2 separate regions of the Homo sapiens genome follow, and region 2 is linked to region 1. A link means that fine-mapping ties the variant in region 1 to the expression of a gene that starts in the linked region. Tissue or cell type: sigmoid colon. Region 1 holds a variant in brackets; the other region holds the start of a gene. All regions are shown on one strand. Distances are from middle to middle.

Region 1 (11,210 bases):
TAAAATCTCCTATTTCCTTACATTTTCCTCCTTGTAAATTATACTAAATGTCTTTTCAATCCTTGGCTAAAACAGATAAACTGATAACTTGGAATTTTCTACTCACAGTATAATGAAGAACTCTAAAGAACTCATTTAAAAAATTGGGAATAAGAAGATTACATGAGATGATATCAAAATCTTTACAGGGGGCTATAAAAAGGAAAAGTTTAAGGAAGACAGGTTCCCATCTGAAATTGGAAAAATATCTTTGTGAGGCATTAGAGGAATCTCAGTTCACTACATAAAAATCAAGAAGAGTTTTTCTCCAGTATGAATGGGTGAGTTTGCTTTGGATGGAGATATCAAGGCTGATGTGAAAACCTGGCCCATGAAGCATGCTTATAAAATGATGATGCTGATTCCACACTTGGCCCACACAAGATTGTCTCGGTAGCCTGATGCTAACATTGCTTTCAGATTATACATCATAATTTTTCAAGCACCCACATCTTGGTTACCTAATTTGGTCCTCCTGAAATGCCTATAGTGTAGATGAGACCAGGATTGTCCTTGACTGTACTGTTTTGTGGCTTTTGAGTAGGGAAGCTGGACTCATCTTGTTTTCCTCTCCATCTTAGCCTCCCAGTGTCATGGACATGGTAGCTATGCCAGCACAGGTCCAGGGGTCTCTCCCGCCTTCCCCCAGACCACTGCACATCCTGGGGCACGTTTTACACCACTGCAAATCCTAGGAGGTGAATGTGGCCGGGGCCCTAATCTCAGCTGGAGGCTTCTAGCAGGTTTGATGGAAACAGCTTGCAGCTCTGAGCACAGCTTGATCACCATCTGTGCCCATCAGCAAGTTAAATAAACTCCCTGGGCTTCACATTCCTCTTTTGTAAAATGAGCACATAGATTTGCATGATCTTTAAGGCAGTGGATTCCAGAAGATGAGTCCATGGATCAGTTTGAAAAAAAAAAAAATTAATTGGCCGGGTGATGTGGCTCACGCCTGTAATCCCAGCACTCTGGGAGGCCAAAGCGGGTGGATCACGAGGTCAGGAGATCGAGACCATCCTGGCTAATGCTGTGAAACCCTGTCTCTACTAAAAATACAAAAAATTAGCTGCACGTGGTCGCGGGCGCCTGTAGTCCCAGCTACTCAAGAGGCTGAGGCAGGAGAATGGCGTGAACCCGGGAGGCAGAGCTTGCAGTGAGCCAAGATCGCGCCACTGCACTCCAGCCTGGGCGACAGAGCGAGACTCCATCTCAAAGAAAAAAAGAATTAATTTTGGGAATTCACATGGGCTTGCCAACTCTTTGTTGTTTGAAATACATTAAAGGGCCAGGAGTGGTGGCTCATGTCTGTAATCCCTGCACTTTGGGAGGCCGAGGTTGGCAGATCACTTGAGGTCAGGAGTTCAAGACCAGCATGGCCAACAGGGTGAAACCCCATCTCTACTAAAAATACAAAAATGAGCTGGGCATGGTGGCGGGCACCTGAAATCCCAGCTACTCAGGAGGCTGAGGCAGGAGAATTGCTTGAACCCGGGAAATGGAGGTGGCAGTGAGCCAAGATTGCACCAGTGTACTCCAGCCTGGGCTACAGAGCAAGACTCCATCTCAAAAAAAAAGAAAAAGAAAAAAAGAAATACATTAAAGATAACAACTCTGATCATCCCTCCTCCCACGCTGGTTCCAACCAGTGGAGAATTGACACTGAGATCCAGATGAAGATCAAAAAAAAACAACTTTATTAGTGGATTGGTCAAGTGCCTAATGCCTGCAGAGTAACAGAGGGTCTCTTAAGGCAGACTAAGGAGACACTAGCTGGCATCTCTCCATCAGTGAGATTTCATAAACACACCTGAAGCCAGTGGGCAGAGTAATCTCAGAGCAGTGCCCCTTCCACCTCCACAAAGCTGAGCCCTACTCCCATCCCATGCTTCTCCTTGTGTCTGCTTCTGGGATCTGTAAAATGGGCAGCTCAGCTATTGCCCCAGAAGGCTCTGAAATCAGTAAGGACAGAATTAAGATAACTTTGCTGGGCATGATGGTATATGCCTGTAGTCCTAGCTACTCAGGAGGCTGAGGTGGGAAGATCACTTGAGCCCTGGAGTTCGAGACCAGCTGGGGCAACATAGCAAGACTCTGTCTCTAAAAACATAAAATGAAATAAAATAAAATGGAAAAAAAGAAAGAAGAAAACTTCAAGACTGCACACACTGAAAGCCAAAATTCATTGCTTTTTAAATTTTCCATCTCCAATTATATTCCACCTAATACCCAACATAACTCATGACATTTTATAATAAACACCACATGAAAGTCTAAAATGTTCCAAATAAGGCAAAGCCAACCACACAAAAATGCCCAAATTTACATAAACTCACATCAGTGATTACAGTTTCAAAGAGAGGTTGAAGTCTAAAGATGAAATCCTTTGACTTTGGTAAATTAAAGGCTGAAGACATTAAGGTTCAACATTTTCTCTCACTTGATTTGGGGTATAGTAGAAACTTCTCAAGAACATAATCCTGACAGCAAAACTGTCTCTTTCGTAAGTGCTACAGACAGAGGATTGTAGGATCCCACCAGCACAAAAGGCACTTTCAAGAGCAAGCCAATAGTTTGAGGTACAATCCACAAGCGAGCTTCCAATGGGAGGGATCTTAAGGGAGCAGCCACTGAAATAGTGCCCAGGGACTGGGTAGGCACCCCATACCTCTTTCTTGGTTGCAATAGCTGTTTCTCAGCAGAGATACAGAATTTACCCTGGGCCTCTGTGCACTCTCCAGCTCTGTGCTCAGGAAGATGCTAGAATTGCCCACAAAACTTTAGGCCATTCCCAGAACTATTCATATTAATGTGGCAGGTACTGGCTACCATGCTGAGGGTTTGTCTCAAATCCCTTAGAGAACAAACAGTTAAATACATGCAATAGAATATGACTCAGTCTTAAAAAGGGAGGACATTCTGACACATGCTACAACATTGATGAACCCTGAGGACTTAGGCTAAGCGAAATAAGCCAGATACAGAAAGATAAATACTGCACAATTCCACTTACATGAGGAATCTGGAGCAGTTAAATTCATAGAGAAGTCTGGGTGCAGTGGTATTCACCTATAACCCTAGCACCTTGGGAGGCAGAGGCAGGCAGATTGCTCAAGCTCAGGAGTTTGAGACCAGCCTGGGTGACATGGTAAGACCTCACCTCTACAAAAAATACAAAAATTTAGCTGGGCATAGTGGCACATGCCTATAGTCCCTGCTACTTAGAAGGCTAAGATGAGAAGATCACTTGTGGCCAGAGGTTGAGGGTGCGGTGAGCCAAGATCGTGCCACTGCACTCCAGCCTGGGCAAAAGAGTGAAACCTGTCTCAAAAAAAAAACAAAAAAATCATAAAGACATGCAGAATGGTTGTCAGGAACTGGGAGGAGATGAGAATGGGGAGTTATTGTTTAATGGGCATAGAGTTTCAGTTTGGATAGTAGCAATGATAGCATAACAATGTGAATGTACTTAATGCCATTAAACTGTGGATTTAAAAATGATTAACGTGGTAAATTTTATGTTATGTGTATTTTACCAGCATTTAACACTTTAATCTTCAATAAAAAAAAAATCCTTCTTAGCCCAGCTGTGGAATTAAGAACACTTATGATTCTTTGGATAACTCTAAGCTATCCAATGCTGGCAGGTTGCAATGAAATTCAAGGCTTCTTGAGGCTCTTTTAGTGAATACCGCAGCTTACCCAGCACCCCCCTGCATTCCCCATGTTGATCCATGGAGGAAAGATCTTCCTCCCCGCACACTTCTACCTCTAGACCAATGCGGGGAGGAAAGCTTCCACTCCACTTCCCTGCCATCCAAAAGGAAGAGAAGTACTGAATCTGATGAGTGAGGGCTGGCATCACAGTGCATGGTTCCCCAGTGGGCAAGGTACAGAGTCAGTGTTACCTGTAAATGTCTTTATCTTTGTGTAGCCAGCAAGCTGAGCAGGGCTGACCTCAGCAAATCTGTAATTCACTTTCTGCTCCACCCCCTCTGCCCGTGACCAGGAATGAGTCAGAAGGACCTTGTAGAAGGGACCTGTCTGAATCTGGTTTCAGGGGAGAAAGTAGAAGGCTGCCCTCAGGCCTGCCAACTAAAAGTCCATATCGCAGCTTCACGAGAGCTGGCCTGGAAGCAGGGCTTAACTAGGTCAAAAATGGGACTTTGATTCCCATCTGGATGTCAGTTTCTTGAGGTGCTTCTCCTCTGGCAGAAAAGGGGGCAGAAATGAGAGGGTAAAGGAGAATGGTCTTATTCCCCTAAAATCACCATGAAATGGTCTTTTAAAAATAAGAAAAGTAGGACACATGTTCTAAAGAAAAAAAATTTTTTCAACTGAACACATTTAGCTTTATACAAAGCTCACCTTGTTTCTTTGTCTCTCATTTTGTCCAAATTGTTAATTTCATAATTATCACTAGTCCATGAACCTGCATTTGAGAAATCTTTGAGAAGCATTCCTCTGAAGTACGTTTTTGCTCTCAAAGTCTGTGACATAAATAACTATCACTTCTGCTTCCATCACCCCTCCCAGAACCCGTCATTGAAAGAAGACTAGAGCAGAAACTACGGTTTAGTGCCTTACAGAATGCTTTGTACAAATAAATACTCAACAAATTTTTAAAATACAGCCTGCCCCCTGTGTCGGGGTGACTCAGGAACCCATCTGACCTAAAGTTCCATCTGTTTTTCTGAATCCAGAGTCCAGACACTCACGTGCAGATGAAAAAAAGTATCAGGAGTGGCACATTCCTGAGCCACACTGCACCAAAGATGATTTCACAATAGGTACCAGGTTTACTTTTGTTTCATGAGTCTGCCTGCAAATTCAAGTTTCTCTGGTTCATCTCCTTTGCATTAGTATGTGTTAATTAAAGTGAAATTAGCACGTCTTCCTGAAGCTCTGGCCCTCATTGTATACACACCAGGACTAACATTAAGCTACCTTCACTTCGTGCTCTCTAGGCATTGGGGTTCTTCAGGGCTCATATTTTTTTCTCTGAGAATTATTAGCTCATTCTGCCTACCATGTTCCCCAGCAGAGAGGGAGGAAGAGAACGCTCTGTGTCCCCCACCCCCACACAAAAAGCCATTCTTTTCTTTGCAAGCAACTGGTACATGTTTTCAGCTGACATGTCCTAGATTGTTCTAAAAAGAGCAGCGGCAAGATAAATTGCAAGAACAGATGATTCAAAGACTCCCTGGGAAGTACCACAGCCAGCTCATAATTACAAATGCAGGGTAGGCGGAACATCTGTATCCTGAGTCACTCTGCTTTTCTAGAAGGGAGAATGTCATTAGCCCTCCTGCTGCAGGAACTTTTGAGATCTGTAAGCAGGTTCCAGAACTGGTTCACGGTGTGCTCTGTCCTCTTGAGGCTGCAAGTGACCCTCTCCCCACCCCCGTACAAATTTAACATACCTTGAAGTCATTATAATTAATTACCAGCTGACTATAGCCCAGAGAGCTTCTAAGTCTATATTTTGAATAATAACTCTGCAAAGGTAATGTGCATGTGTTTTGGGGGGAGAACGATAACCTTAAAAATCTTATAAGTGTTTCTGAGCTTGGTTCTCTAATGCCTGGAATGATACAAATTTAGGGGCATTGCCTTTTATGGGAAGAGATACTAGGAAAAAGTAAAAGGAGAAATGGGTTTTTCTGGAAAACTATAAGAACAATTATCTTAAATGAGAGATAGTTGAGGCTCTGGGGTTAATGAATAAAAAAAGATGATGGCAAAAGAAACATAAGACATTGATGAGTGAAAACAAGAGCTAATAGTTTTGGCAGAGCCAAGTTTACCAGTGTGTTGGCAGGAGTTACTGTTCCTTCTTGTGTGATTTCTTTG[A/G]GGACATTGCACTGTTTATACAGAGAGTGTAAACATAGCTGTTGATTTAACTAAACACTGTTTTTTGTTCCCCGTCTCTCACAGCCATGGTAAATAGCCTAATATTTAAGCTCAGAGGCTTTGATGTGAGTTAAGGTAAGATTCAGTTGTGCTGGTCATAGCTGTGCGCCTTAGAACAAACTTCCTACCCTCTCTGAGTCCAGTTTCAAGATTGCTACAGGAATCACAATCCTATCTGTCTCAAAAAGCAGTTTTAAGGATATAATGAGGCAATGTGTATAACCACCAGAGTATAATTTCTGGGACACAGCAAATCCTTAATGAATGTTGGGGTGAAGTGGGGTGGCACTTTGCTGTTGTCAATTTATCTAAATAAAGTCCCCACTTACAAACACCTAGTATAGAATAAAACTAACGGTCTCCAGGGTCAGCGCTAAAACCTCAGACTCTGAACAGTATCACACAAAATGCTTGCATAAGGTAGCTTTTCACAAAGAAATGCGACGAACCCTGGAAGAAAAACTGAGGATAACAGAAATGTCCACTTAGGACATTTAGACAGACCCACTCAAGTGTTTGTGAAGGGAAGATGGCACATTACCATCAGGTCTTTCTGAGCTGGCCGCAGGTCCTATCCGGGGATTCTAGAAATTAAAATGGCCTGACATGAGTCTGATTTTGCCCAAGCATCCTCACAGGACCTCTTGAGAATGTAATCATTCTACTACTTTGTCTGAGGGTAGAAACAGGGAAACAAGGGAAAGCTGGAAAGTGATTGTAGGAAGGCCCCGTAATGGGACCATGGTAGGAGGAATGTGTCTCAGGAAAGGTGAGAAAGTTATTCTCACTTCCTCTCATCATTCTCTTCATCAACCTCTCCTCAGACGGCATGGGCTAGGGCACTGGACATCCTCCAAACTTGATCAGTTATATGATATCACTCTAATATAACATAATGTTCTTAGTCTATTTTGGCTTTTATAACAAAATACCATAAACTGGTTGGCTTATAAACAACAGGAACTTATTATTTCTTACTGTTCTGGAGGCTGGAGTGTCCCAGATCAAGACACTGATAGATTCCATGTCTGGTGAGGGCCTGCTTCCTGGTTCTTCTCACTGTGTCTCACATAATGAGGGCGTTCTATGGGGTGCCTTCTAAAGGGGCACTAATCCCATTCAAGAGGGCTTCTTCATCATTGCCTAATCACCTCCCAAAGCCTCCACCTCCTGATACCATCACCTTGGGGGTTAGGATTTCAACATACCCATTTTGGAGGTACACAACATTCAGCCCATAACAATAATGAAATTGTATCCTTTTAGCAGCAGGTACCAGAATTCATCTTGTACAGGATCCATCATTGTTGGGAAAAGACCCTGGGTCAGCCCACTTCAGCCAGGGAGGTACCCATGGGGTCATGGATGTTGGCTGGCACTGTGGCTTCCACAAAATTATCCTGAGAAGGGTGAGATGTCTGTGACACTCCTGAAGTGAAGGAGGAAGAAGAGACTGAAGGAAAGAGAAAGTTAAAAGAGAGAGAAAAAAGAAGAGTCAATGCAGTGATAAAGAAGACAGCCCCTCAAAGTCTCACCAAAGCCACTAAGCCCATAAAGGCTTGGAAGTGGGTTAAGAGTATGAGTGGGGTTTGTGTCCAAGTTGACAGATCATAAAGCAGAAAAAATACAGGCAGAAGTAGAGCTAGAAGGCAATGTGGCCTCAGCTGCTAGCTGGGTTACATAAAATATCATATGATTAAACACATAGTAAGTCCTCACTTAACGTTTTTGATAGGTTCTTGGAAACTGCGACTTTAAGCAGAACTATGTGTAGCAGGTCCTCAAATAGCATCGTTTTGTTCAACATTGTTTTATTATAACGTTGATTAAAAAAAATTGGTTTTGTCACACATCATTTTGCTTAAAGTCACAGTTTCCAAGAACCGATTGAGGTCATTAAGTGAGAACCTACTGTATGTATTTCTACTAAAGGCTCAAAATATTAAGGTGCAAAAAGATCTAGAGATGAGACAGTGTGTAAGTGGCATGCCAAGCAGAGGGAACCCCCGTGCAGATGCACAGAGACAACCATGAACAAAGTCATGCACCCATCAATATTTGCTGAACTCCTGCCATGTGCAAAGGAACTATGCCAGGCTGTGGAACCCCATGTTGAGCAAAACCAGAGTCCTGGCATTCACACACCAATGAGAAAGACAGACACTAATCAAGTCACTGCACAAAAGTCTATAAAATGACAGTGGTCAGGAGGGCTATGCAGCCCTCTCATGGTGCAATGAGAGAATGAACAGGGAAGCTGGCCTCGCCAGGGGGATCAGAGACCTCTTCCACAAATAAGCAATGCTTGGCCTGAGAACTGAATGATGAGACCTTAACTAGGTGAAGAAAATAGAGCAAAGCACCCCAGGAAGAGGAATATGGGTGGCAAGTTGGAGGACTGAAAGAATGCAATGTGTGTTTAGGGCAAAAAGAACGCTGGGGAGAATGAGCAGCATGAAGCCGGGAGGTTGGAAGGAGCAGGTTTCTCAGGGGCTGCAGACCACGTTACCAAGTTTAGTTTTTACCATCAGGGAGAGAGGAAGTCACTGACAGGAAACTGATAGGAACACCCAAGAAAGTCTGAAAATGGCAGATGAGTCCTCTGCATATGCATAAACTGTGTCTCCACTTTACTTAGCATCTCCATAAACTATAAATTTGGCTTACCCTGAGTTGCTGGGCATGCCCCAAATGAAAAAATATTTAATTAACATCATTAACTTAGAAGGTTGGGCACAGTGGCTCACACCTGTAATCCAAGGACTTTGCGAGGCCGAGGCAAGAGGATTACTTGAGCTCACGAGTCAGAGACCAGACAGGGCAACATGGCAAAACCCCATCTCTACTAAAAAAAAACAAAAAACCTGGTGGGTGCTTGTAGTCCCAGCTACTCAGGAGGCTGAGGTGGGAGGATCGCTTGAACCCGGGAGGTGGAGGTTGCAGTGAACTGAGATTGCACCACTGCATTCCAGACAGCCTGGGTGACAGAGCACGACTCCACTTCAAATTTAAAAAAAGACAAAAAGTAATAGAAGGAAAAAATTTTAGCTTACTAACTGCATTGCCATAATCAGTATTTTTAAAATGAGTTTTCTATCAATACACAAGAAAAACCCTAAATTCTGAACTACCACTGAAACGTAAATACCCAGGATGTGAATTCACAATTTAATGTTTAATTTTTAGTGACTTGAAGAATACTGATCAAACAGCCGGAGTTCTATTTCTTTTTTTGTTTGTTTGTTTGTTTGTTTGAGACAGAGTTTTGCTCTCATTGCCCAGGCTGGAGTGCAATGGTGCAATCTCGGCTCACGTTACAACCTCTGCCAGTTTCAAGTGATTCTCCTGCCTCAGCCTCCTGAGTAGCTGGGATTACAGGTGCCCGCCACCATGTCCAGCTAAATTTTTTGTGTTTTTAGTAGAGATAGGGTTTCACTATGTTGGCCAGGCTGGTCTTGAACTCCTGATCTCAGGTGATCCACCCGCCTTGGCCTCCCAAAGTGCTGGGATTGCAGGCATGAGCCACCGCACCCGGCCCAGAGTTCTAATTGTGACTCTGCCTCTTATTAGTCACATAGCCTTGCACAAGTCTCCAAACCTCTCTCAGTCTCAGTTTTCTCATCCATAAAATGGGATAAAATGGGTCCAATGTGCCCCACAGTATTAAAAGTGAGATTCTTGGGCAGGGCGTGGTGACTCACGCCTGTAATCTCAGCACTTTGGGAGGCTGAGCCAGGCTGATGGCTTGAGCGAGTAGTTCGAGACCAGCCTGGGCAACATGGTGAAACCCCATCTCTACAAAAAATACAAAAATTAGCCGGGTGTGGTGGCATACACCTGTAGTCCCAGCTACTCGGGAGGCTGAGATGGGAGAATCACATGAGCCCAGGAGGTTGGGAATGCAGTAAACCGAAATCGCACCAGTGCACTCCAGCCTGGGTAATTGAGGGAGACTGTCTCAAAAAAAGAAAAGAAGCAAGTAAGAGCCTTTTGTAATAGAGTGATATACCAGACAAAGAGATTATCATTAACCTTTCTCCAAATTTGCATGGAGAAAATACAGAACTGTAGAACTTATTCCACTCAGATAGTGACTTTTTTTAACTTCATGCCTCAAACTGTTTTGTAATATTGTTACAAAATCATGCTTTATCTTTAAATCCATTGTTCTCTAATACATCATAAAACTATTTCTTATGTACGTGAAGCCACCAAGATAGAGATTCTTTGGGAAAAAAAGTTTTGTTTCATTTTATTTCAGCCCTGATGAATAATTCAATTCCAATATTATGACCAAAGTTTTATATATATTTTTAAAAAGGAAAAGAACACATGAGGCTGGGTGTGGTGGCTCACGCCTGTAATCCCAGCACTTTGAGAGGCTGAGGCAGGGGGATCACCTGAGGTCAGGAGTTAAAGACCAGCCTGGCCAACACGGTGAAACCTCATCTCTACTAAAAATACCAAAAATTAGCCCTCCACCACACCTGTAATCACCGCTGCTCAGGAGCCTGAGGCAGGAGAATTGCTTGAACCAGGGAGGCGGAGGTTGCAGTAAGCCAATATCGCACCATTGCACTCCACAACAGAGTGAGATTTTTGTCTTAAAAAAAAAAAAGAAAGAAAGAAAAGAAAAAACATGAAAAGATGCTCAACTCATAAAAAAGAAGCACATGTTAAAACTATATGAGATGCGGCTGGGCGCAGTGGCTCACGCCTGTAATCCCAACACTTAGGGAGGCCGAGGTAGGTGGATCACGAGGTCAGGGGATTGAGACCACCCTGGCTAACACAGTGAAACCCCGTCTCTACTAAAAATACAAAAAAAACTTAGCAGGGCGTGGTGGCGCTCGCCTGTAGTCCCAGCTACTCAGGAGGCTGAGGTAGGAGAATGGTGTGAACCCAGGAGGCGGAGGCTGCAGTGAGCCGCGATCGGGCCACTGCACTCCAGCCTGGGCGACAGAGCAAGACTCTGTCTCAAAAAAAACAAACAAACAAACAAACAAAAAACTATATGAGATGCTATTTTGCACCTATCAGATTGGCAGAAATGTAAACTCTTGACAAACAAGAGAGGTTGTGGGAAAGCACACGCTCTCCTTCCCTCCTGGGCGGTACAAAATGTTACCTACGGAAAGGAAACGGGCAATATCTAGCAAAAGTACATTTGCAGTTTCCCTTTGATCCAGAGATCACGCTTCTATGAATTTACCCTGAAAATGCACCTCCAACAACAGAAGAAAACACGTGCACAAAGT
Region 2 (9,604 bases), 52 kb after region 1:
GAGAGCTTGATCTCCGGCCCCCTCCTCCCCTTCACAGAGGTCAGTTGGTGAAGCTCAAAGTTCTAACCCTCTAATCCTCCAATCACTTGGTCTTTCTGGTGATTAGCCCCATGCTGAGGCTATGTAGGGCCCCCATCCTAAATCATCTCATTAGCATAAACTCAGGAGTTTAGGGGCTCACTATAAACACGGAAAGACACTTCTATCACTCAGGAAATTTCAAGGATTTTAAGAGCTCTATGACAGAAACTGGGGACAAAGGCCAAATATATTTTATATTATACCACTGGGGTAAGAGGAATAAGGGCTGAGATCGGGAGGTAAAGGGAAAGGCCCTGAGTCATTGAAGGATTTTGGTTTTTACTCCCAGAGAAATTGGGAGCCAGTGAAAGGTTTTGAGGGGTAACTCAGTCTGATTTTTAATATGCATTTTCTGGCTATTGTGTCAAGAGTAGATTGGAGGACAAGGTGGAAGCAAGTGATAGTGGTGAGCATTTGGCTGGAAGCAGAGAAAGTAGTGATAAGTTACTGGACTCCAGACAGATTTGAAGGACAAACCAACATAACTTGCTAACAATGTGGATAAAAACCGCTGGCATTTAAGCATTAGAGCTCTAAAAACCGAAAACCAAACCAAACCAAACAAAATAAAACACTGGGGAAAGAATTTGGCTGATAAAGCTATGAATATAATTCCTGTATTTCTGACTCCATGGCTGTATAGAAAAAAAGCACTGGGTTTGTTCAAAGTTGACTTGTCAAGATGTATTACAATGTTAATTTCAAGATAGAATTACAAGAATGTCAAGATGTATTACATGTGTTACAATGTAAACTTCAAGATGTATTACATGTATTACAATGTGAATTTCAAGATAGAATTACAAAAATGCCAAGATGTATTACATGTACTACAATGTTAATTTCTAGATAGAATTACAAGAATGTCAAGACATATTATGTATTAAATGTTAATTTCGAGATAGAATCACAAGATTTCAAGTTGTATTACAATGTTAAGCTCAAGATAGAAAATATATTGTAACATATGGAGCAGTATTAAGGTCCTCTGAACATTGCTTAACAGTATATGGCAGCCTTTGCCCTCACATTTCTGCTCCAGGTTGTTGGAAATATGTCAAGACCGTGAAGCAATCACCATAAAGATTCTGAGAAACTCATTAATCCTTCCAGTGACATCCAAAGAAAACTCAAATCAAAATTTCCAACCAGATTGTAAGAATTCCTAGGACCAATTTAAATATCCATTACAGCATAATATGGACAGAAAAAGGTATATTCTGCTGTCAATATATTTTGATTAGTACTGCATCTTATTTGAGAGAGCCTGATTTGTCCTCAAAATGAATCTTAAAAGCAACCATTAGAATAAAAGAAGTTGGGCTTTGGGAAAGACGTTGAAGAAAACGCAAATTCAAAACGTTTTATTTTTTAAATTTATTTTTGAGAGAGACAGGGTATTGCCCTGTTGCCTAGGCTGGAGTGTGGTGGCACCATCATAGCTCACTGCAGCCTCCAACTCCTGGGCTTAAGGTATCCTCCTACCTCAGTCTCCAGGGTTGCTGGGACTACAAGCAGGAGCCAAAGTGCCTGGCAAAAGTATTTTAAATCGGGCCAGGCCTGGTGGCTTACGCCTGTAATCCTAGCACTTTGGGAGGCCAAGGCCGGTGGATCACTTGAGGTCAGGAGTTCCAGACCAGCCTGGCCAACATGGTGAAACCCCGTCTCTACTAAAAATACAAAACTTAACCAGGCATAGTGGTGCCTGTCTGCAATCCCAGCTACTTGGGAGGCTGGGGCAGGAGAATCACTTGAACCTGGGAGGCAGAGGATGCAGTAAGCCAAGATCGCACCACTACACTCCAGCCTGGGCAACACAGTAAGACTCTGTCTCAAAAAAAAAAAATTAAATCCTTAGAAAGATGTATCCTCTGCTGCTGCTCTAGAACTCTAGGTGGAGGCAAAGGTTGCAGCCAGCGGAGATCATGCCACTGCACTCCAGCCTGGGCAACAGAGTGGCACTCCATCTCAAAAAAAAAAAAAAAATCCTTAAAAGTATGTATCCTCTGCTGCTACTCTAGAACTCTAGGTGGAGGCAGATTTCTAAACCAGTTCTTTTGCACAGGAATTACTGGTTTGGGTGGGGCGTGGTGACGCTGCTGTCTCAGAATTAATGTAATCATGCATCTCCACACTCCCTTTTGGACTATATTTTCAAGGCCACTGTCTGCCTGTTGAAGAGACTATCAGTTTGATCCTCACGTATTTTCACAATCAAAATATCTAAGTAAGGAATTATATAAAAGTTGTAGGAATGTGTTTTATATCACTTTTAGTATAGCCACATGGTTAATAACAGCCTCATATTCAGGGTCTGGATTGCAGCAGTGCCATTTACTTCACTGCAAGTGCTAAATGTCCTCATCTTTAAAAGTGGGATAATGATATAGTCTTCATGAAGCTGTGAGGATTAAAGAAGTTAAGGCTGGGTATGGTGGACCACCCCTGTAATCCCAACACTTTGGGAGGCCAAGTTGGGCGGATGGCTTGAGGTCAGGAATTGGAGAGCAGCCTGGGCAACATAGGAGACCCCTGTCTCTACAAAAATATAAAACAAAGGAGTTAATATTTGTAAAGCCTTCAAAACAGTTATTGGCATAGCCAGAACTTTGTGTGTTATTATTTTAAGACCATTGCTCCACAGGACCTGACAGCTTTCAATTTACATGCTTTAAAAAAGCAGAGAAATGAAAACTGTCGATTTTCCCAACGCTCCCTAATTTCACTAGTTGCTTGATGTTTTTCAAAGCATTTAGAACACTGTAAACAGCAAGGAAGGTCATACAGTAAAGAAAGAAAAAGCAACCCCGAGTTCGAGGTGTGCACTCTTCAACTCAAAAATTCGAATGTAACGCTCTCTGGTCATCCCTTGCCATTACACATATTCTTCGAAATGAACTGATTTTTTTTTTTTCCAAGTAAAAGTAATCCTTACACAACCTAAGAAAAAAGCAGAGCATTTTCCTTGACCACTTTGAGATCTGGGTGAGCAGTGGATGTTTAAATGCTGGCATTTCTACAAGGTCGGCAATTAAGAATTCACGAAAACATTAATCACTACGAATTATCAGAAAAACACCAAGAGCGCTACGAGGCCTCGGAGCCTTTACTCCCCCTGGAAGTAACCGGGGAGCACCCAGGGGCAAAGCCGAGGCCCCAAGCGCGGGGAATGCGGCTTTGCCCGACCGCTGGCTCCGCGTCCCTCTCCGGGTGCATAAGTCTTGGCTCCCGCGCCTCTCCCGAGCACTTAGCCTCCCGAGCAGAGAGGGGAACCAGAGGAGCGTCGAAGCCGGGAGAGAAAAGGGGCGGGCGCCGCTCTGGTAAGAAGTTCGGGCCTGGCCCCCAAGCGCCGGCGAACCGGCTATCCGGCGAGCCAGTAATTAGCCCGCTCCGACGGTTGCGCCCGGTGGCCAGACCCGGCGCCCGACACCTGGAGCGAGTGCGCTGGGGCGCCGGACAGGAGAGGCCAGGCTGGCAAAGGCGCGGGAGGCGGGGTCGGAGCGTGGGCGGGGCACCGCGGGGCGGGGCGCGTCGCTCGTTTCCGGTGTGCGCGGCGGAGCGCTAGGGCGGGGGCACAGTCGGCTCCCAATCGCGCACAATGAGACAGCGCTGAGCGCCGGAAGTGGGGCCGAAGGAAAACACGGAGAGGGAGCCCGGCCGGGACAGGAAGAGGCTGGGGACCGCGGCGAAGGTGGTGAGTGCTCTTGGGCGCCTTCTCCCAACGTCCCTGCCAGACTCGCCTCCGGGCTGATTCTCCAGTTGGTTTCCTGGACTCCAGAGTAGCTGTCCGGCCTGGCCCCGGAGGTACGTTGGTTCCATCCCCCGCCGGCCTCCTCGCACCAGTTTGGGTGACCGAGGAACCCCCAGGCCGGCAGAGGCTGAGCCCTCGGGTTCGAGTCCGTGTTTTCACTTTTTGTCAGACTGCGGGCGCAGAAGACGGGATTTGGGTCAAGACATTCGGCTCTGGCCCCCTGGCCGGCCGGGGGAACCCTGGAACCCCATGGAGACAGCAGGTCACTTCCTGCTTCCTGGTCCCCACGGTGGCTTCTTGGCCAGGAGTGCAGGGACGCCTCCTCTTTCTCCACGTCGGGCTCAAAAGGGTGGAAACTAAGGCAGATCGGTGGTGGAGCGGTCAGATGGGGATTGAAGAGGAGTGTCATTCCTCAGGGAATTGCTGTTCCTGACAAAACCAAACTTGTTTGGGGTTGGAGAACGGGGATTGAGGAGGTTAGATGGAGTTGTCCCTTGATCGGAAACCCAGCCTCTTTAATTACAGCTGCACCTTGGTCGGAAGCCCAGCCCCTCCGTAACCTAAGCGCTCAAAGCCGGTCTGTCCAGAATAGGGGTGGTGAAGGGACGGAAAATTGGAGTTGAGAAATGTAGTACTCCTTTCACGTAAAGTTTCGGTGTATAACACTTACAAGTAATTGCCAACTTAAAAAACAAAAGACTGTTTCGGTAGTTTAGTAATAATATTGGCTTGGGATGAGGTTTTCTTTGAAGAGAAACGCCTTGTTACAGAGGGAAAAGCCGACCATACTTGATATGAGTAATATTCTACTATGCTACAGTTCTGGAACCTATAGAGCTTCTCTTATTCACACATTTAATCTTCATGCTAAATAGTAAGTATTAATTTTCATGAAGAATATTAGAGGACCAAGCCTCCCAACCTCTAGGGTAAAGCACTGATTATTAAGAATGTGATAGAATTTTTATTTTAAAAAAATAGGGAGTTTCTTTCTTACAGGCTTTGGGGCATCTGTACGATAAATTGTTATTTTGTATACTTGTATGATATCTTGTTATATAGTTTGATATTTCCCCAAAATACCTTCTTTCAGGTGCAAAGTAAGAAAATTGAAGTCAAAGACCATGGGAGATACAGCAAAACCTTATTTCGTGAAGCGCACTAAAGACCGGGGGACTATGGATGATGATGACTTCAGAAGGGGTCACCCCCAACAAGATTATTTAATAATAGATGACCATGCTAAAGGCCATGGCAGTAAAATGGAAAAGGGCCTTCAAAAAAAGAAGATAACACCAGGGAACTATGGGAATACCCCCAGAAAAGGACCATGTGCTGTTTCCAGCAATCCATATGCATTTAAAAACCCAATCTACAGTCAACCCGCTTGGATGAATGACAGCCACAAAGATCAGAGTAAGAGATGGCTGTCTGATGAACATACTGGTAATTCAGACAACTGGAGAGAATTCAAACCTGGACCTAGAATTCCTGTTATAAACCGACAAAGAAAAGACTCCTTTCAAGAAAATGAAGATGGTTATAGGTGGCAAGACACAAGAGGCTGCAGAACTGTAAGACGACTGTTTCATAAAGACCTAACAAGCCTAGAAACCACGTCAGAAATGGAAGCAGGAAGTCCTGGTAATGTTTTCCAACTTGTCAGATCACAACCCCAGAGTCAGCAATGTTTTATTCTTTTTCATCCAAATGAGTTTTGTTATTTTCAGCAATTTAGTTTCAGTTTTTCACAGTTTCTGTTTTAAGAAATGGTCACTTAGTGTGATTATTTTAAGGATAGTAATCATGATATTTGAGCAGCTAAAACACATTTCATATGTTGATCCCTTTAAAAGTTTACTTTGCCCCAGGGCTCACTTTACGTCAGTAAACATGTTTTCTGTAACGTGTTTTTTACAGAAGAGGGTAGCTATATGCTCCAGGGGACCATATCGTAATTGCTCAGTGGTTTGTGTGTTTTCAAAATTGTGATTATAATTTTGTATTTGAATAATTAATGTGTTCATAATATAAATGACAGAATATAAAGCTTTTTTTAAAAAAAAAACTTATTTGTTGATGTAAAAACACAGTATACACTGCGTATATCTCCTGCCACAAGAGATATATCTTTTGGATGTAGTGTCAGTGTCCCGAGATGGATAATCTGAGATCTTTGTTTTTCAAAAGGGATCGTGACAAACAGGTTGAGAAACAAGTTTAGAAAGTCAGAAATAGATTCAAGCTTTGCTGTTTGGTTTCAGTAAGACCAAAACTAATTTCTCGGTGCCCTCACATGCTTGGTTAATTGCCCCAAAGGGATAATAAGGAGATAATATGTTTTTCTAAAAGTAAAAAGTAGATTTTATCCATGTGGCAACGATTTCTGCAAACAGGAAGGTTATTTTTATCTAATGGGAGATATATACCGAAATGAAATAAAGTCACAAATTGGATGGAAAAAATGAAACAATATCACAGTTGGAAACATGGACTTGTAAGTTTAGTGGCTGAAAGCGTTTTTTAGTGGTTGTATAGAATGTGTTTCAAACTGGCCAGCACTTTTAAATAAATTTTTTTAGTTTAAATGCATTCAGGGAATATGGACACTTTCTAGATCACCCGATGCCTTTTCTCTTCATGTTATCTCACAGTGGCCAGTTCATACACTGGTTACCTATAAGGTGTTTGAATTTGTGTCCCATGCGTATAGAATACTTAAAAGCCAAAAGGTCGTCTTTTATCTTTACAAGGTCTTAGGATAAAAATGAAAGTCTCAAGCACTTATTAATATTAAATGGGGGGAAATGTGCTACTTGATTTTTTTTCTTTTTTCACAGATACTTCTAGTTGTCAGATCTGTTTATTTATATTTTATTTTATTTTTTGAGACGGAGTCTCGCTCTGTCACCCAGGCTGGAGTACAGTGGCGCGATCTTGGCTCACTGCAACCTCTGCCTCCTGGGTTCAAGCGATTCTCCTGTCTCATCCCCCAAAGTAGCTGGGACTACAGGCACATGCCACCACATCAGGCTAATTTTTGTATTTTTAATAGAGACAGGGTTTCACCATGTTGGCCTGACTGGTCTCAAACTCCTAACCTCCAGTGATCCACCCACCTTGGCCTCCCAAAGTGCTGGGATTACAGGCGTGAGCCACCACATTCAGCCTGATTTTTTTTTTTTTTTTTTGAGACAGTCTCACTGTGTCACCCAGGCTGGAGGTGCAGTGATGTGACCTCCTCTCACTGTGGCCTCTGCCTCCCAGGATCAAGCGGTTCTCATGTCTCAGCCTCCCAAGTAGCTGGGACTACAGGTGCACACCACCATGCCCAGCTAATTTTTCTGTTTTTTAATAGAGATAGGGTTTCTCCCTGTTGGCCAGGCTGGTCTTGAACTCCTGACCTCAAGTGATCGACCTGCCTCTGCTTCCCAAAGTGCTGGGATTACAGGCGTGAACTACCGCGCCTGGCCCTCAGATATTTTTAAATTTGAAAATTAAGAGTATATATTAATATCAAGTAGCAGAAACAGAATGAAGTGTTATAAAGGCGTTAAGTAGTAGGGAGACATAAAACTTAAATCTTTAAGCTAGAAATAGCTTGAGGAATTATCTGATGCAGTACTCTGTTGTAATATATCAAAAATGGAATCACAGTTTTACAAATCAGGCAGCTGCAGCTCAGAGAGGTTAAATTTCCACAGACCTGTTTATGCAGCGCGGTAAATGAGGAAGTAGAACTAAAATTGGGGACTCTGCTACTCTGGCCATTAACTCAGCCTCGCTGGACCTGAAATCCTGACGGCGGAGCCGAATATTTCTTGATAATTTCTGGGCTTTTGATTTGTGTTTTTCTTTATTAAAAATTGTGTATATTTAAGTGTTTCTGTATTACTGTCCAGGTGGGATGTGGGTATTTAATTTTGTTACCTATAGTCTTGTAGAAGTTGATCTTGAAAACCATTTCATTTTATTATTATTATTCTCTTTTTTGAGATGGAGTCTCGCTCTGTAGCCCAGGCTGGAGTGCAGTGGTGCGATCTTGGTTCACTGCAACCTCCATCTCCCAGGTTCAAGCAATTCTCTTGCCTCAGCCTCCTGAGTGGCTGGGACTACAGGCACGTGCCACCACACCTAGCTAATTTTTGTATTTTTAGTAGAGTTGGGGTTTTAGCATGTTGGCCAGGGGTAGTCTCGATACCCTGACCTCATGATCTGCCTGCCTTGACGTCCCAAAGTGTTGGGATTACAGGTGTGAGCCACTGCACCCGGCTGAAAAGCATTTTAAAAAGAAAGTTTATAGATCAAAAATTTGCAACTAGACATTAAAAGGAACTGTTGGCTGACCACAAAAACTTTTATATGTTTTCTTATTTTATGTGTATTCTTATAAAAGCAACTAAAGAAGTTGCTTTTAAGTGTATTTGAATAGGAAATGCATTTTGCTATTTTTTTATTGGAGGTAATTCAAAAGTTTGCATGTTTTTGCTGTATGACATACAGGTATATGCTTTCACAGTTATTAAGTAAAGAATTATTCAGTTTCTATCCCTTGAAAATCTTCATATAGGAAGCATTAAGCTTCGGTATAACATTATTTAGTTTAGAGAGATTCAACTGAAAGTATAAACTAAAAAGGATCTCATTAAAGAGATCGAAATTTCTTTATCAAAATTGTGTCTTAATAAGGAAGGGTATTATTCAACAATGTGAGAAGATATAATGGAAATTATGGTGGAGTTGCTTTTTTCCCCCCCACATACGGTACTACCTTCTGTTTTTTTCAGCTCTACATTACTGCCCCTACTTTAGCCTTCAAATGTCCTAGATTGCCAGTTTAATGTATTTGGGACATTGCCATTAATGATCTTAGCTGGAAAGCATCCACTCAAATACACATGTCCTTTGTGAACCATATGCAAATAAAATATGGGAAACTTGGAATGCCGAATATAGAGAACTCTTATTACAATAAATCTGAGGTAAGCCAGGTAGTCTTCCTCCAAGTAATTATGAGAATTTTTCTTTTTTCTTTTTTTTTTTTGAGATGGAGTTTCACTCTTGTCGCCCAGGCTGGAGTGCAATGGCATGATCTCGGTTCACTGCAACCTCTGCCTCCCGAGTTCAAGCAATTCTCCTGCCTCAGCCTCCCGAGTAGCTGGGATTACAGGTGCCTGCCACCACGCCCAGCTAATTTTTGTATTTTTAGTAGAGACAGGGTTTCACCATGTTGGCCAGGATGGTCTCGAACTCCCGACCTCAGGTGATCCACCTGCCTCGGCCTCCCAAAATGCTGGGATTACAGGCATGAGCTGCCACGCCTGGCCAAGAATTTTTCATCAGTACCTAGCTTTACCCTCCAAGAGTCCCTCCGGTGAGATTTTGACAGTTTTTACCATGCATGCCTGTGAAAGTAGGTTTAGAAGGTTATATTGCCTTTCAGTGCTAGTCCACTCTAGATGTGAATGGGTATGTTCCAAGAAGGGATTTTAGTAATTTCTTTCCAGTTTTTATGTTGTTAGTTAGAAGGCTGAATTTCAGGATTTCATCCTTTTTTTGTTTGTTTGTTTTTTAGACAGAGTCTCACTCTGTCACCCAGGCTGGAGTGCAATGGCGCAATCATGACTCACCACAGCCTCACCTCCTGGGCTTAAGCAGTCCTTCCGTCTCAGCCTCCTGAGTAGCTGGGACCACAGGAGTGAGTCATCTTGCTGGCTGATTTTTTTCATTTTTGCTAGAGATGACATCTCACTATGTTGTCCAGGCTGGTCT

The links. PIP is the estimated chance that this variant, and not a neighbour inherited with it, causes the effect.
Region 2: TUT7 starts here. The variant in region 1 is fine-mapped to the expression of TUT7 in sigmoid colon (GTEx, PIP 0.96).

Annotation. Positions count from the first base shown.
Region 1 is chr9:86,400,083-86,411,292 of GRCh38, reverse strand. No RefSeq gene overlaps it. Among named protein-coding and RNA genes, the nearest start is that of TUT7, 51 kb to the right of the region's middle. RefSeq lists an enhancer at 488-1,085. The variant A/G (reference allele first, on the strand shown) is at 5,893.
Region 2 is chr9:86,348,552-86,358,155 of GRCh38, reverse strand. TUT7 (terminal uridylyl transferase 7) reads left to right here and starts at 3,746. Exons shown (of 27, transcript NM_024617.4): 1 at 3,746-3,885; 2 at 4,926-5,476. The coding sequence starts at 4,957. RefSeq lists a silencer at 3,488-3,667 and an enhancer at 3,688-3,897.